Linked DNA regions of Homo sapiens: regions 2, 3 and 4 are each reported to be linked to region 1. Evidence: microRNA targets listed by miRTarBase, many of them from high-throughput screens and not tested one by one. Region 1 holds a microRNA gene; each other region holds the end of a gene's coding sequence.

Region 1 (4,612 bases):
TGTGCCTGGCCCATCTGGCTTCTTCGCTGGTTCTGCCATCAAGCCACCAAAACTGGAAGGTTTTCTTAAACCACAACAGGGAGTTCCCAGGCTCCCTGGTTCCCTCTCTCCTCAGCGAATCCTTCCTCCTGCTTTCCTATGGCTGGGGAGCTGCACAGTGAGAGGCCTGTGGACAAGAAGCAGGCGCAAAGGCAGGAGGGACAGGAGCCCAGTTGGTGGGGAGGTGGCCTGTGGACAGCAAATCACACGCTGCCCTCTAAGGAGAAAATAGGTGGTGTTCCTCTCCACGGAGGCAGCCTGGACAAGGCTGGAAGTGGGCCCATGAGGCTGAGTGAGCTGGGCCTGGGCATTCACGATTGCTTTTCTCCTCTCCCATTTCAGGTCCCAGCAGCTGGGGTTCCCCCTCAGCCCGTGAGCAGCCATGTCCAACCCCAGCGCCCCACCACCATATGAAGACCGCAACCCCCTGTACCCAGGCCCTCCGCCCCCTGGGGGCTATGGGCAGCCATCTGTCCTGCCAGGAGGGTATCCTGCCTACCCTGGCTACCCGCAGCCTGGCTACGGTCACCCTGCTGGCTACCCACAGCCCATGCCCCCCACCCACCCGATGCCCATGAACTACGGTGAGTCCTGGAAGGGCAGATGGAAGGTGGGTGGGAGGGACAGCACTTGGAGCAGATGAGGCCACCGCCTCCTGCCCCTTTTCTCTTCTAGTTTCCCTTAAATCCCTTTCTCATCTTCTCTGTTGAGATCTCTCCCTCTGTTTCTGTCTTTGTTACCCTCCACTTTTTGCCTCAGCAACTGGCCCCCAGCCACTTGCTGCCCCCTTTGTTCAAGGAGATCCATGAGGCATGTCCCAGAACGTACACACCACAGGAGAATGGGGCTGGGCCAAGTAATGACTCCTGAGGGGTTACCTCAGGGCACCAGCTCTGTTTCCCAACAAGCGGCCAACAAGCTGCTGCCACCTCCCAGACCTGTCGACTTCCTTAGGAACTCCTTTGGGAACCTGAACCACTTTCCTCATCCTTTAAAGTGAAATCTGACTTTTGCAAAAGACATTTGGAGCCAAGTTTGGTAAACATCATGGCAGGGACATGCTTGTGTTTGGTCAGAAATGAGGTGAGGCCGGCCGCGGTGGCTCACGCCTGTAATCCCAGCACTCTGGGAGGCTGAGGCGAGCAGATCACCTGAGGTCAGGAATTCGAGACCAGCCTGGCCAACATGGCAAAACCCCATCTCCACTAAAAATACAAAAACTTAGCCGGGTGTGGTGGCGTGCACCTGTAATCCCAGCTACTCAGGAGGCTGAGGCAGGAGAATCGCTTGCAATCCCAGGAGGTGGAGGTTGCAGTGAGCCAGGATCGCACTACTGCACTTCAGCCTGAGCAACAGAGCAAGACTCTGTCTCAAAAAAAAAACCAAAAAAAAAACAAAAAACAAAACAAAACAAAAAAAGAGGCCGGGTACGGTGGCTCATGCCTGTAATCTCAACACTTTGGGAGGCTGAGATGGGCGGATCACGAGTTTGAGACCAGCCTGGCCAACATGGTGAAACCCTGTCTCTACCAAAAATACAAAAAATGAGCCGGGCGTGGTGGCATGCGTCTGTAATCCCAGCTACTCAGGAGGCTAAGGCAGGAGAATTGCTTGAACCCGGGAGGTGGAGGTTGCGGTGAGCCGAGATCACGCCTTTGCACTCCAGCTTGGGCAACAAGACCGAAACTCCATCTCAAAAAAAAAAAAAAAAAAAAAAAGGAAATGAGGTGAAGTTAGAGTGCAGTGAGTCTTCCTGGGTGGCTCAAGCGTGGATTTTAAAAGTAGTTCCCAAAGAGGCATTCAGGCATTCAGGCATTCAGGGAATGTTTGCAGCCCTGCAGCATCTCTGAACCCCAGAGGGGTGTCAGCCAGCTCTCACCTGGACATGTGCGCTGGTGCGGATCTGCGCATGGGTCCTGCACAGTCACGCACACCCTTTGCACACCTGCCTCTGTGAGGCTGATGCAGATCCCTGTCTTCACCTCTATCCCTGCTGCTGCACAAACTGCGCTCTGCCGCCCTCCTTTTCTCCTACCCTCTGTCCCCATCCCCTGTTCTGCCCTGGCTGGCTGCCCCAGTGGATGCCCATACCTGCTCCTGCCTGGCTTCCCCACTACATCGTGACCCCCCAGTGAACCCCCAGTGGCGTGGGCTGGGCACACAGGAGCCCTCCACAGATGCACGTGAGGAACGTTTCCCACCTAAGCCCCCTCGTGACAGGCCGGCTCTGGGTCACTCTGAGGGTGTCTAGAAGACCCCAGCTTGGGAGAAGAGTTCCTGTTATAACACTTGTCTTTTGGCTGGAGATCCCTGAGACTTTGAGATTGTCAGGGAGGCTTTGGGATTGACGCCACATGTCTCAGGTCCCCAGCTGAGTCAAGTGTCATCTGTCCCTAGGCCCAGGCCATGGCTATGATGGGGAGGAGAGAGCAGTGAGTGATAGCTTCGGGCCTGGAGAGTGGGATGACCGGAAAGTGCGACACACTTTTATCCGAAAGGTAAGATACGCGCTGGGAGGTGGGTGTACCTGGGGCCCCTCAGGCTGTGGGAATGGGAAGTGGGTAGGCCACAGTAGCCCCAGGGCATCAATTCCATGAAATACACTGGCTGCCTGTCTTCTCTAGCCTTGTCTGCTTCTCAGAGGGGCACCTGGCTTCTCTAACCCCAGGGTTCCCTCTCTTTTTGCACCTCTCTTCTTGACCATGTTTTGGGAGGACACATTCAGTCTGGGAGAATCTCCTAGGTGGGTTCTGCCACAGCGCCCGCCTTCCCCAGACATCTTTCTCCCTTTAGACTATAGGCAGCTTGGAGCCAGAAATGATCCTACTCGCTTGTAACCCACCCTCTCCATCTCACAGCTGCATAGAGCGTGCAGACTGAGCTGCTGGGAGTGCAGAGGCCATACTGGTAGAGTATGGTGGCCAGGCAGGGCAAGTCAGTAGTCACCGAGGCTGGTGTTGGACAGGAGGGGAGATGGCAGGGAGCATGGGAGCGGGGCTGAGGAAGAAGTGCACATTGCCTCTGAGCCAGGCATCTCACTGGGGTCGCCTCTGGGCCAGGCTGCAGCTAGGGAGGGTTCTTGAGTGGGAGGAAAGTACTGGGGGCTGGCAGCTTCCTGGGGCAGGCCAGGGGTGCCGGATGGTGACCCATGCCCGGCCGTCTGTGTCCAGGTTTACTCCATCATCTCCGTGCAGCTGCTCATCACTGTGGCCATCATTGCTATCTTCACCTTTGTGTAAGTCTCTAGGCTTTGCCACCCACTCCTACTGCCCTGGGGGTTCAGGGTCACCTGCTGGGGGTGTGGGTGGCGGTGGGCCCTGCTCTCAGGGTGACCATGGGCAATTAGAGAAGGTGAAGCCAGGGCTGCCTGGCTGGCCTGGGTGGGGCAGACAAGCCTCAGGGTGACTACTCCTGTCCTCCTGTGCCCCACAGGGAACCTGTCAGCGCCTTTGTGAGGAGAAATGTGGCTGTCTACTACGTGTCCTAGTGAGTGTGTGCTCCTCTGTGGTTGGGCAGGGAGGCAGGGGTGGCAGCTTCTGTTTCTAGGTGACCAGCTTTGCTCAGGGCAGGATCAAAATGCTTTTTGAGAGGGCCCCCAAGTTGGTGCCAGTTTCCCGTGCCAGAGGGTGTGGGTGTGCGTGCCCAGATGAGTAGCAGACCCCTAGAACTCGAGAGCAAGAGTGGGACCTGCTGGTGGTGGCGTGCACGCTGCGCTGCAGCCCCCATGTCCTCTCAGCCCGTCAGCTGCAGCCTCCCCAGACCTCCTTCCTGGCCGGAGCCTGGTGCTTCAGAGCATCTCAGTGACCCTGGCTGGGGGTAATCTCGTTCTTGCTTCCTGTTGAGTTGCTTCCCCTCAGACTTCCAAACGGCTATTTGGGCCCCAAATCACTGGCCTGGTGTGTGCTGCCAAGCGGGGCAGATTTGGGCCTGAACTGCTTCCCCATCTCTTTGTCCCTAGTGCTGTCTTCGTTGTCACCTACCTGATCCTTGCCTGCTGCCAGGGACCCAGGTGAGTCCCAGAGACTTAACACAGTGAGAGGGGTGACAGGGATTGGGATGGGGGCCGAGTATTTTGGAAAGAAGGATTCCTTTATAGCAGCTGAATGGAAACTTACAAGAAATGAGGAGGAGGATGACGATGACAGCTACTGTTCAGGTGTATACAAAGGACCATGTGTGTTTAGGAGCTAACTAGCTGTCACTCTTATAGTAACCCTGCAAGACAGGTAGCATTTTAGCCAGTTAACAAATAGGAAGAACCCGAGGCTCAAAGAGGCTGAGTAACTTTCTCCCCATCACACAGGCAGTCAGTTTAAGAGTTGCAAACCAATCCAGGTGTTTCTGGCGCCACAACACAGGTCTGTCTCATTGGCCCATGTTGTCCCTGCGTACCACACCTGAACAGGTGCCAAAGGCCATGCCAACCTCCCTCCTTGGAGTCAAGGCTTAATCCTCCAGGCACAGGAGCCAAGCGCTTCCTTCTGCTGTAGGAGCCTCTGACGCCTGAGGGGCCCCAAGTCATTTAATCAAGGCTTCTCTTTCCCTTCAGACGCCGTTTCCCATGGAACATCAT
Region 2 (4,000 bases), not on the chromosome of region 1:
CCAGCAGCTTCAGCAAGAGGAGTATCAACAGCAGCAGGCAGCGCAGCCAGTGCGGATGCGGACGCGGGTCCTGTCACTGCAGGTGGGCTGCTGCCTGGGCGCCCACACTCCCGGTTTCCACCTCATGCTTTGCCGGGTCCAGAACACCTGTTATTCCTGCACTGGTCTCTTCAAGGTTTCTTCTCTCAGAGTCCTTCCCCTGCCTGTCCCTCTCCCCTGGAGCCCCTTCCTGTCTTCCTCTCCCTACTCTCTGTCCCAATCCTGACACCCCTTCTTCTAGAATCTCTTCTTGTGCTCTTCCAAGGAAGTTCAGTGACCAATTGTTAAATCCGATACAGGGGAGAGGAGCCACATCTGGACGCCCAGCCGGGGAGCGTCGGCAGAGGCCGAAGCACGAGTCAGACTGCATTCTGCTGTAGCTCTGCCCCAGTGCCAGGCTGGCCTGCCCCTTCTTCCAGAGGCTATGGCTAGTTGGCTTGCTCCCCCGCCTCCACCCCTGAGATGTGCTGGATAACTTATTTATGGACTGTTGGGGATGAGAGCAGGCAACAAATGCCAAGGTCAGACTTGGTAATGTCCTTGACCTCACGTGCTGCTGCCTTCTCTGCCTCCCATCCAGGGCAACACTAGGATTGGTGGGTTTCTGGTTCTCAACTCCCGGTCCCTGAATAGTCACACGTATGTACAGACTGAGGCTCTGGGGTGAGGTCCCTATCCAGAATGCATCTCTTCTGCTTCCCATCCCTGCTGCCTGGATGCTCCTGATCACCTAGGCAGGCCTGTCTCCAGTTGTTTCAGAGCTTAATTTGGGTTTCTATCTCTTATTTGTAATGCCTTCCTGGGGTTTGGAAATAAAACTTCTGGCCGGGCACGGTGGCTCACTCCTGTAATCTCAACAATTTGAGAGGCCAAGGTGGGCGGATCACCTGAGGTTAGGAGTTCGAGACCAGCCTGCCCAAAAAGGTGAAACCCCGTCTCTACTAAAAATACAAGAAATTAGCTGGGCGTCATGGTGGGCGCCTGTAATCCCAGCTACTCGGGAGGCTGAGGCAGGAGAATCACTTGAACCTGGGAGGTGAAAGTTGCAGTGAGCCGAGATCGCACCATTGCACTCCAGCCTGGGCGACAAGAGCAAAACTGTCTAAAAAAAAAAAAAACCTTCTTTCCTGAGATCTGTTGTTTGCCTTACCCTGAAGCAATAGGGTTAAGTATTTGACCCAATTGAAGAATGCAAAAAGCGGGAGGTGGGTCAGAGGCAGGAAGGTGGTTACCTGTCATTTCTTTTTTTCTTTTTTTTTTTTTTTTGAGATGGAGCCTCGCTGTATTGCCCAGGCTGGAGTGCAGTGGTGCAATCTGAGCTCACTGCAACCTCCGCCTCCCGGATTCAAGCGATTCTCCTACCTCAGCCTCCTGAGTAGCTGGGACTACAGGCATGCGCCACTGCGCCCAGCTAATTTTTGTATTTTTAGTAGAGACGGTTTCGCCACTTTGGTCAGGCTAGTCTTGAATTCCTGACCTCAAGTAATCCGCCTGCCTTGGCCTCCCGAAGTGCTGGAATTACAGGCGTGAGCCACTGCGCCCAGCTACCTGTCATTTCTAATATAGCCTGCAGGGGGAACCAAAGCCTGACTTTTTGTTTTTGTTTCTGTTTTTGTTTTTGTTTTCTATGGGAAATAGTGCTCTCCTGGGAGGTGGGTTTCCAAATCTCTGCTTGGACACATGAATTTGAGGGTTGTGCTCTCCACTAACCCAAGAATTCCCATGCTGGGGAGGGTAGCTTGGCCCTCCGCTTGCTTCCCAGTTCATACAGATGGTCCTTTGCTCCCTCTATTTCTCACCTTGTTCTAATGCCTGTTTCTCAATTATTTTGCCTGAAGTTTCCTGGAGAATGAGGGTGAGGGGAGACCTGGAGTGGGAGACCTGGGTGTGGATTACTGTAGCACTAAGGCAAAACAGGATTCCTGCGGAATAGCCAAGTGCACATCAAAGGCACTTCCAACTCCAGTGCCTCTTCCCGGTCCATGTCCTGCTCCACCCAACCTTCAATCAGGGAACACAAACAACAGCGAAGTTTGCCAAAAGAATTCGAGTATCAGTGAGATGTTCTGGCCAGGGTACAGGAGGGATGAGTGAGGCAGAAACTATCAAAGAAAACTCATTTCCCCACACCCAAGAAGGAGCTGGATGACCCAGGTACAGATATAATTTTGAGATGGGAAAATTAAGGGATTTTAAAGAAACAGTTCCAGCCTCAACAAGAAGCTAGAGAATGTGGTGCTCAGTGAGGGGTTATCCTACTTGGAGGCCCAGCTGGTCTCCCAGGTTCAGCCAAACACGGAAATCTCAGATCCTCGGATGTCATGTGGGGTGGGGCAGGGAAGTCTCACATGTCTTCAGCCCTGCACAAGGCCAGGAGGGCTGACTGGCAATCCCCTTTCACTGCATCCTGCAGACAAGGGAATTCAGTGTTAGAAAGATCCACCACCACTATGGCCCAAGTGCTCTCTCCCCTCCTTTGGGCTGGTCCATCACAGTTCATCTGGGAGGGAAGGGTCCTCCCGGGAGCTCAGAGTCCTGCACTACATTAACCAAAGACTCCTGGGTTTTCTTTTTTAAGATGGAGTCTTGCCCTGTCACCCAGGTGGGAGTGCAGTGGCACGATCTTGGCTCACTGCAACCTCTGCCTTCTGGGTTCAAGCGACTCTCCTGCCTCAGCCTCCTGAGTAGCTGGGATTACAGGTGCACGCCACCATGCCTGGCTAATTTTTGTATTTTTAGTAGAGACGGGGTTTCACCATGTTGGTCAGGGTGGTCTTGAACTCCTGACCTCGTGATCCGCCCACCTCAGCCTCTCAAAGTGCTGGGATTACAGGCGTGAGCCACTGTGCCTGGCTAACTACTGGGTTTTCTATGGGGCAAGAATATGCTCAGCTGTGTGCAGGGAGTGAGGGTGGAGGTGAGGAGTGAAGGCCTGAGGCTCCAGGCTAAGAAGTAGCCAAGTTTCACCTGGAGAGAAGAGTAGAGGGACTTCCCAAATTTCTTCCTGAACTCAGCTCTGATACTCAGAAGGTCAGTCTCACATCGAGAGATAAGGATGCGAATCAGGACTTGGTAATTGGGCTCAGTTTCCTAGTAGGGGAAGAAAGAGATGGGGGGTAGTTAGTGAGAGTCTCACTGAGAGTAGGGGTTGAATGGCTTGGAGGGTTATTGTAGGAAGGGGAGGCAAGGTGGGAGTCAAGGGATAAGAGTGTACATTATACATTATCTCGGGACAAAAGTTATGTTTGTCCATCCTCAAGGAAGATGACACAGCAGGAAAGATCAGTCTCTGTGGGGGCAGCTTGAGTATTTATTTCTTTCCACATGTCTTTCCTGCCCCTACCATTAGCTTAGAGCTGTGTACCTCCAGAATTTGGTGGTGAGCAGCTCCAAAGATAGGTACACCAGGAAGGCTAGAAAAGATTTGGTGCATATAAAGACTGCCAGCATGAAAACCAGGAAAACTGCTTTTAACTTTCAAGTTAGTGAATATCCAAGGAGGATATACCTGCCCTATCCCTAAACTGAGCTGATGAGGCTCTGATAGGGTTCAAGGTTGTGTGACTTCTAGTTCTGATTCCAACCCAATAGGGCCATCTCACAGCCCCATCTCTGCATATTAGTTTCTCCGGTTGGACCCTTAGGCTGAAACATTGCTATCTTCCTCCTGTACATGCAGCAGGCCTGTTTTTTGGCTAAAGAAAGTAATGAAAGGTTCAGTTTAGAAATAACAGGCCAGGCACAGTGGCTCATGCCTGTAATCCCAGCACTTTGGGAGGATGAGGCGCGTGGATCATCTGAGGTAGGAGTTCGAGACCAGCCTGACCAAAATGGTGAAACCCCGTCTCTACTAAAAATACAAAAATAAGCCAGGCATGGTGGTGGGTGCCTGCAATCCCAGCTACTTGGAAGGCTGAGGCAGGAGAATTGCTTGAACCCAGGAGGCGGAGGTTGCAGTGAG
Region 3 (4,000 bases), not on the chromosome of region 1:
TGTCTGTTCTCTATAACCTGGCCAGCTTCTCCCTGCTGGCCCTCACCTCTGCCCTCACCGTCCACGTCCTGGGCAACCTCACCGTGGTGGGCAACCTCATCCTGTCCCGGCTGTTGTTTGGCAGCCGCCTCAGTGCCCTCAGCTACGTGGGCATCGCACTCACTCTTTCAGGAATGTTCCTTTACCACAACTGCGAGTTCGTGGCCTCCTGGGCTGCCCGTCGGGGGCTGTGGCGGAGGGACCAGCCCAGCAAGGGTCTTTGAGACCTGGGGGATCTCAGGAGCCACCTGGGATGGCCCTGGCCTGAATCCAGCCTCCGCTGTGGCCATAGAAGGAATGGAGAACAGGGCTGGGCATGGTGGCTCACGCCTATAATCCCAGCACTTCCAGAGTCCGAGGTGGGTGGATCACCTGAGGCCAGGAGTTCGAGACCAGCCTGGCTAACATGGCAAAACCTCATCTCTACTAAAAATAGAAAAATTAGCTGGGCATGGTGGCGCGTGCCTATAGTCCCAGCTACATGGGAGGCTAAGGTGGGAGGATCACTTGAGCCCTGGAGATCGAGGCTGCAGTAAGCCAAGATCGCATGCTACTGCACTCCAGCCTGGGAGACAGAGCGAGACGCTGTCTCAATTAAAAAAAAAAAAAAGTGGAGAACTGGCAGTGACCTCTACTGGGGGCCATGGCAGGGAGGGGAGCCTTCTGGAAGGGCTGCCTTGGAGATTGGAATGGGGACTCCCAGGGAGACCTGCGTTCCATCCCTGCCTGCCTCACCCCTGCCACAGACTCTGCACACCACTGGATGGTGGGTCCAAGCCTGGCACAGTCCCTGTGCTTGTCAGAGTCATTATTATGATTAATATCAATTACGATGCCAAAAATTGCTGGGCAAACTTTGAAGACCTCAACTTGTTACAATGACGATGATGATGATTCTTGGCGGTTACACAATCCTTCCTCCTGGGGGGGAGGCAGCTAGGAGGCCCAGCAGGGGGGCTTCTATGCTGCTGGGCTCCCCTAGGGAGTTGGGGTAGTCTGTGCCAACTCCAGGCAGCTGCTGTGGCCTCACCCCTGGGCCCCCCAATTTTGGGTCATCCATCCTCAAATACACTATTTTTGCTTGTATGCCTGTGTCATTTGTTGGTTGTACAGAGGGGATATAGGGAGAGTGGTAGGCTTCCCACACAGAAACTAGGACATCCTCCCTTACCCATCGCAGTCTGTCTGGCCCCCCACCCCGAGCCCAGTGCCATTCCCTCAAATCCCTCCACTGGCTGGGCTACCATTGCCCATCTTCTGGACAGTGGCAGTGGCCTCCCCCTTGCTCTGCCTGGCCCCTCTACTCCATCTTACACACAGACCCCTTCACCCAGAGGGATCTCACTAAAACGTGCACATTCTGATGTTCCTCACTGCTCTTGGGACAAAGTCAGAATTTCCTACCCCAGACCCCAACTCACTCAGGACGTGGCACCTGCAGCCTCACCCAGCTTGTCTCCCTTCCCCTGGGCTCTGCCTTCCAGCCTCACCGACTTCTTTCAGTTCCCCGTGATACCAGGCCTGCTCACTGAAACCTTTGTACATGCTGTTCCCTCCGTCCAGTCCCCGCTTCCTACAACAACCTCCTCCCTTCCCACAGCTTAAACCCCTGCCTGGAGGAGAAAACCCAAACATGCAACTCTTTTTAAAAAGAGAAATCCAGGCCGGGCGCGGTGGCTCACACCTGTAATCCCAGTACTTTGGGAGGCCAAGGCGGGCGGATCACCTGATGTCAGGGGTTCGAGACCAGCCTGGCCAACATGCTGAAACACCGTCTCTATTAAAAATACAAAAAAATTAGCCAGGCCTGCTGGCGTGCACCTGAGGCAGGAGAATCGCTGGAACCCAGGAGGCAGAGGTTGCAGTGAGCCGAGATTGTGCCACTGCACTCCAGCTTGGCCAACAAGACCGAAACTCCATCTCAAAAAAGAAAAGAAAAATCCAATCGCTTGAGGCCAGGAGTTGGAGGCTGCAGTGCACTATGATCATGCCACTGCACTCCAGCCTGGGTGACAGAGCAAGACCCTATCTCTTTCAAAAAAAAAAAGGGCTGATGAGGGTCTTGACAAGGGACTGTGCTCAGGAGGCTTGCAGGGGTATAGGGGAGCAGGGCTCCCATGTAGGGAACCTAAGACAGGAGTCCCAACCCCCAGAGCTCCCTGACTCGCCAGCTGGCGTCAGCTTTGTTATTTACCTCTGAGCCTTTCCTTGGCTCTTGTAACACCTAACTCTCCCCAGCCAGCTACCTCTCCTGGAGATCACCTGTTAAAGATGATAAGGACCCAGTTGGAGTGAGAACACCTGGAACCTAATCCTGCTCTGCCCACCTGACTGGGAGCCTCCCTTCCCTAGGCCTCAGCTTCCAGATCTGCAAAATGGAACTGATGATCCCTATGGAGAGGGTTCGAATGAGGAGCGCTGGGCAGGGCCAGGAGTGAGGAAGGAGGTAATGGCACCAACTGGCTCTGCTTTTATCTTGGGGTATTCACCCAACCTTTCTGGAAACCATCTGCAAAATGTCTCCCATTTGTGTGAGGACTAGGAGCTAGACCAGGCTGGGGCTGTGGTCTATGGAGACTGAGATTCAGGGAGGAATCATTCAGATTCAGTAACCAGAATTCGTAAGGGACCACAGTGCCAGCAAGTGCTAGACAGGGCTGAGTAAAGGGCCAGCCCACGGCGGGGTGGGAGTGGGTAGGGAAGGCCTAGGAGGACCGGTATGGGGTTTCCTGGTTCCAGCCTCCGCCCAGGCTGCCTTACAGAAGGGGAAGTCGGCCTGGGCTGAGTCACCTGTCACCCACCCTCTCTATGACTCAGAGATGCCGCTGGCCCAGCCCAGTCCCTGAGCAGCTTGGGTACCTCTGGCCTCCACTCTCAGGCTTTGCCAGGCAGGATGGAGGGATGGATGGCTGTGGTCAAATCCTCCTCGGTGACTCAGGACCCTTTCCCATCCAACTGGCCCCCACTGCCATAGCAGGGACCTCCCTGTACCACCCTCATTTCTAGGCCTTGTGGGATGCTTGGCTAATGAGTGAGCCTCACATCAGATTAAAGCCTGCCCCTGGTGGTTGTGGGGACAGGTAATTGGGGTTGTGTGTGACCTGGGAGCTGGTTTGTCACCAGATTCAGGACCATTAGACATTGAGGTGATTCCCCCAAGGCCACAGCCAAAGCCATGCCTATCACCCCTCCCAGCAGTGGGCACAGAGAGCGCTGGATTGGGAGTCAAAAAGCTTGGGTTTGGTGGGATGTGGTGGCTCACGCCTGTAATCCCAGTACTTTGGGAGTCCGAGGGGGGCGGATCACCTGAAGTCAGGAGTTCAAGACCAGCCTGGCCAACATGGTGAAACCCCGTCTCTACTAAAAATACAAAAATTAGCTGGGCATGGTGGCAGCCGCCTGTAATCCCAGCTACTTGGGAGGCTGAGGCAGGAGAATCGCTTGAACCTGGGAGGCGGAGGTTGCAGTGAGCCGAGATCATGCCATTGCACTGTAGCCTGGGGGACAAGAGCAAGACTTCGTCTCAAAAAAAAAAAAAATTAGACGGACATGGTGGTGGGGACCTGTAATCCCAGCTACTCGGAAGGCTGAGGCAGGAGAATCGCTTGAGCCTAGGAGGCAGAGATTGCTGTGAGCCAAGATTACGCCACTGCACTCCAGCTTGTGTGACAGAATGAGACTCCATCTCAAAAAATAAACAAAAATAAAAAAGAACAGGGGCTCTGGAGTTTGACTTGTGCTCGAATCCTGGCTTTGGTACATCTGAGCTCTGTGACCTTGCACAAGGTCCTCTCCACCTGTGCCTCTGTGCATTGAGTGGGGGCAGCAGTGGAACCTAATCCCCCACCAGCTTCTGGAGCTGTAATGGACAAAGGCCTAGGAAGGCCTCAGTCTTATCACAGATGCTTCCACTTCCTCCTCAAGGCTTCTCGTGTTATCTGCCCCACCCCTCCTCAGCCTG
Region 4 (4,000 bases), not on the chromosome of region 1:
AATCCAGTAATGAGGCAGAATATTGTCCTGCCCTCTGATGAAAAAGGAGAATTGGATCTGTCTCTGGAAAATCTGGATCTGTCTAAAGATTGTGGTTCAGTTTCAACAGTAGATGAGTTTCCAGAAGCCAGGGGTGAACATGTACATTCTCTCCCTGAAGCAAGTGTGAGCAGTAAGCCGGACGAAGGCCGGACAGAGCAATCTTCCCAGACACGAAAGGCAGATACGGCATTGGCTTCCATCCCTCCTGTAGCAGAGGGAAAGGCTCATCCTCCCACTCAGATTCTAAACAGAGAGAGAGAAACTGTGCCTGTTGAACTTGAACCTAAAAGGACCATTCAAAGCCTGAAAGAAAAAACAGAAAAAGTAAAAGATCCTAAGACTGCTGCTGATGTGGTCAGCCCTGGGGCCAACTCTGTTGATAGCAGAGTGCAAAGACCAAAAGAAGAGAGTTCAGAAGATGAAAATGAAGTGTCTAATATTTTGAGAAGTGGTAGATCCAAGCAGTTCTATAATCAAACTTATGGAAGCAGGAAGTACAAAAGTGATTGGGGCTATTCTGGTAGGGGTGGATATCAACATGTGAGAAGTGAGGAGTCCTGGAAAGGACAGCCAAGCAGAAGTCGGGATGAAGGTTATCAGTACCATCGAAATGTCAGAGGGCGACCATTTAGGGGAGATAGGAGGAGATCAGGGATGGGAGATGGCCATAGGGGACAGCACACTTGATGGTTGTTGCCGAAGTATTTTCTAACAGAAACTCTTAGGTGGAATGTTTCTGAAGGCTTTAAAAAAAATACAATAAAGTAAAAACCGCAGTTGGAACTCTTTCCTCTCCCCAGCCCCCCTTACCTTCACTCCCATACTGGACAAGACATTTTGGACATGAGTTCAAGGGGGCAGGTTAATTCCTGGCATTGCCAGTTTTCTTCATTCAGAATCTGTTTGTTGATCAAGTGACTGTCCCCGTAAAAAGTAGAAGATAAGTTTGTTAAAGTATTTTTTATAAACAGCTTAATATAAAACATTATAGATTTAGTGTTTGGCTTTTTTCCTTATAAGTTTATAAGTTTGATTTCAGATGTTGGAAATGTGTGCTTTATAGTGTTTACTAAAGTGACAAGAAAATATACCATTTGACACACTATAGATTCCAAACATAACGTTGCACCAAATAGAAATGTATATTTTATTATGCAATGCCTTAGTCATAAACTGGGCTCAAACAATTCTCAGCCTAAAACACTGTTGTCTTTTAAAATGCTTCCAACCCAAAGGCCTTTCATCTCAATATCTGTCAAACTTGAATAATGTCTTCTCTTTAATATTCACATAAGGCAGCCTATTAACTGTGTCTTAGCAATGTTGTATATAGTTCTTTTAATATTCATAAGGTATATTTTTGAATTTTGGTATTTGTTGAGATTGCATAGAAGAATAGTAGGAAATCCAATGAAATGGCTGTTTCCACCAAGAATTCTTAGCACTGGTGTAAATATCATGGTGCCTACTCGAAAGAAATGTAGATGCTATGCATTTTGAAAATAATCTGCATCAGTTAGAACTGCAGAAGTTTTTTTAATGCCACTTTAACACTAATGCACTGACAGATTCTAAATATTTTGTGAGAAGAAATGTTAAAAATTTTTAGCTTGACAGGTTTCTAGAGTTGTTTTCTTCCTCCCCCCCCCCCCCGCACCATTGGTTGTGTATCACTTTCACTTTACACTTGCATGTTCTACTTGTCAGGGCTGGAACTATTGTATAGAAGATAATATGATTGTGACTTCTAGTTCTTTTCTAGAGGATGCTGCTAGAAAATGGTTTTGCTTTGTATTTTATAGCTTGTTACCCTTAGGTAGGTAACATCTTACATTCTGTTTTCTTCCAGTCTTTGCAGTATTCACTAGAGGTTCCCTTTGCATGTTGCACTCTGTTCTCATTTGGAGATTGAACTCTGAATTAACACAGTATTCATTCATCTGTGTTATTTTGTAAAAATAACTGTAGCTTATATTCTTTATTTGTGCATACCAATGTGAAAATCCACTCTTTTATTATGTTGAGATTATCTTCTGATCAGGAAGTTTGAGTGCTATGCAAATAACATAGTAGTAATTTCTCTTTGCATGCCATGTGTAATATACCTAGCCAAAACCAGATGCGGTGACTTTCTTTTTTTGTAAAGCAAATTACTTAAGAAAATACAATTCACTTGAATTTGACAAACTGAAACAGATGGGTTTTCTGGGTTCTCTGATAACCTATGGGAATGTTTGGATGCCAGTTGGGCTAGTGAATCGCCACTGTACTGTAATAATGGTTATTTACCTCTGTGCTGTTTTAATTACCTAACGTCTGTGTAACTGCTGATTTGAGTAGTGATTAGCATTTAGATAATGTAACAGGATTTTAGAGAGCACTTTGAAAGATAACATTTTATTATGATGGTGCTAGGTAAAAAATTGTAAAGACTGGGATGGTTGTGTGGAAAACTTTTCTTGAGAGAACCTATTGAAAGGAATTTGTTGTCACCTTCTTAACTAGAATAGTTGTTGAAGGTACCGCTTAAGCCATTTTTTTCTTAACATCGGTGGCTCAGTTAAGGAATGAGAAGATAGAGGGTCCTCCACTTTCAGCTCATGCTTTTTTATGTAGGACTAGCTTACCTGATTTTAATGAAAATCACATTTTGATACAAACACCAGATTTGAAAGTTCAATGTGTTTGATCTCAGGAGTCCAAAATAAGTTGTTGCTTCTAGTGTCCTGCATTTTATTGACTGGGGTTTGATCTCAGCTTCTGAAAATGTTTAAAAATTGGAAGGAAATACTACTCATATCTTCATTGTCACTTTGTCTTACCTCAATTGAGTAACAGAATATAGCTCCTGAAGGAAACACTGATTTGCTTTCTGTTTCCCATATCTCACCTCTAGGATATGATGGAAGAAGTGCTTGAAAGAGAATTTTAGCAGATGGTACTTTTCTCAGTGACCTCTGGAATAAAAGAACTGACTTTTGATAGTTTTAAAATTAATCTTTGCATGAAGGTTGGTTTCGCTTTTTTTCCTTTAAGTTTGTTTTTAAATGTATTAGTCCAGGGGATTTTGCCTTATGCTGAGGTCAAACTAAGGATAAGCAAGCTTTTGTCCTTCATTTTAACTGTTATGTCATACTGTTATGTTGACATATTTCTTTATAAGAGAATAGAGGCAAAAGTATAGAACTGAGGATCATTTGTATTTTTGAGTTGGAAATTATGAAACTTCACCATATTATGATCATACATATTTTGAAGAACAGACTGACCAAAGCTCACCTGTTTTTTGTGTTAGGTGCTTTGGCTGAACTTGATTCCAGCCCCCTTTTCCCTTTGGTGTTGTGTATGTCTCTTCATTTCCTCTCAAATCTTCAACTCTTGCCCCATGTCTCCTTGGCAGCAGGATGCTGGCATCTGTGTAGTCCTCATACTGTTTACTGATAACCCACAAATTCATTTTCATGGCAGACCTAAGCTCAGACCCTGCCTTGTCCTGGCAAGCATAGGTTTTCCCAGACCACAATGCTGATATATCTTATTTAATGCAGACTGTATTCTTGCAGCGTGTTGTTTCCTTTGTGACTCAAGGTTGAATTAAAATGCCTGTGAACTGCAAACTTGCTTATGATTGACTTGGTGCAATAAAGTTCCTTTCTAACCATTTCTGGTTTAGAAAACATTCAGCCATCCTAGAAACTAGCAATATTTATTTTTGCCTCTTTCGTTTTACCTTCATTTTTAGATGAGGTAAATGTTTTGTCTTTTACTTAAGGGTACTAAGCAAGGTCCACTCTAGTGTAGCTGAAGAGAATGCATATTTGGCTACACTATTTCTGTTTACTGTATTTTGCTTCCTACTTTATGTCTAAATGCTATTGTTTGTTTAAAATCCTAATAATGTCTCATTTCCAATATGTTATTTTCAGATAACTAAGGTTTTGCTACTAATGTCAGCCAT

The links. The annotated mature microRNA hsa-miR-6513-3p reads UCAAGUGUCAUCUGUCCCUAG and lies in region 1 at 2,416-2,436, shown strand. An mRNA with a match to its seed (bases 2 to 7 or 8) in the 3' UTR can be bound and repressed. Matches are read on the target gene's strand: a 7mer-m8 pairs with bases 2 to 8, a 7mer-A1 pairs with bases 2 to 7 and ends in A, and an 8mer does both.
Region 2: the mRNA of MINDY1 is a reported target of hsa-miR-6513-3p. The part of its 3' UTR that is shown has no 7-base or 8-base seed match.
Region 3: miRTarBase lists SLC35E4 as a target of hsa-miR-6513-3p. Seed matches in the 3' UTR shown: 7mer-A1 at 544-550.
Region 4: the mRNA of OTUD4 is a reported target of hsa-miR-6513-3p. Seed matches in the 3' UTR shown: 7mer-m8 at 1,726-1,732 and 7mer-A1 at 2,213-2,219.

What each region holds. Positions count from the first base shown.
Region 1 is chr2:218,277,951-218,282,562 of GRCh38, reverse strand. MIR6513 (microRNA 6513) reads left to right here and starts at 2,375; the gene lies at 2,375-2,438. All of the region lies in intron 2 of PNKD (PNKD metallo-beta-lactamase domain containing), which reads right to left. It overlaps TMBIM1 (transmembrane BAX inhibitor motif containing 1), which reads left to right. Exons shown (of 12, transcript NM_022152.6): 2 at 382-623; 3 at 2,437-2,537; 4 at 3,210-3,274; 5 at 3,472-3,525; 6 at 3,998-4,048; 7 at 4,589-4,612. The coding sequence starts at 422.
Region 2 is chr1:150,993,706-150,997,705 of GRCh38, reverse strand. MINDY1 (MINDY lysine 48 deubiquitinase 1) reads left to right here. Exons shown (of 10, transcript NM_001376665.1): 9 at 1-82; 10 at 339-871. The coding sequence ends at 419. ANXA9 (annexin A9) reads right to left here. Exons shown (of 14, transcript NM_003568.3): 13 at 3,007-3,129; 14 at 2,072-2,446. The coding sequence ends at 2,384. Among named protein-coding and RNA genes, the nearest start is that of MINDY1, 11 kb to the left of the region's middle. RefSeq lists enhancers at 1-161, 1,511-1,730.
Region 3 is chr22:30,646,769-30,650,768 of GRCh38, forward strand. It overlaps SLC35E4 (solute carrier family 35 member E4), which reads left to right. Exons shown (of 2, transcript NM_001001479.4): 2 at 1-1,125. The coding sequence ends at 263. Among named protein-coding and RNA genes, the nearest start is that of SLC35E4, 13 kb to the left of the region's middle. RefSeq lists an enhancer at 1-4.
Region 4 is chr4:145,134,159-145,138,158 of GRCh38, reverse strand. It overlaps OTUD4 (OTU deubiquitinase 4), which reads left to right. Exons shown (of 21, transcript NM_001366057.1): 21 at 1-4,000. The coding sequence ends at 729. Among named protein-coding and RNA genes, the nearest start is that of ABCE1, 38 kb to the right of the region's middle.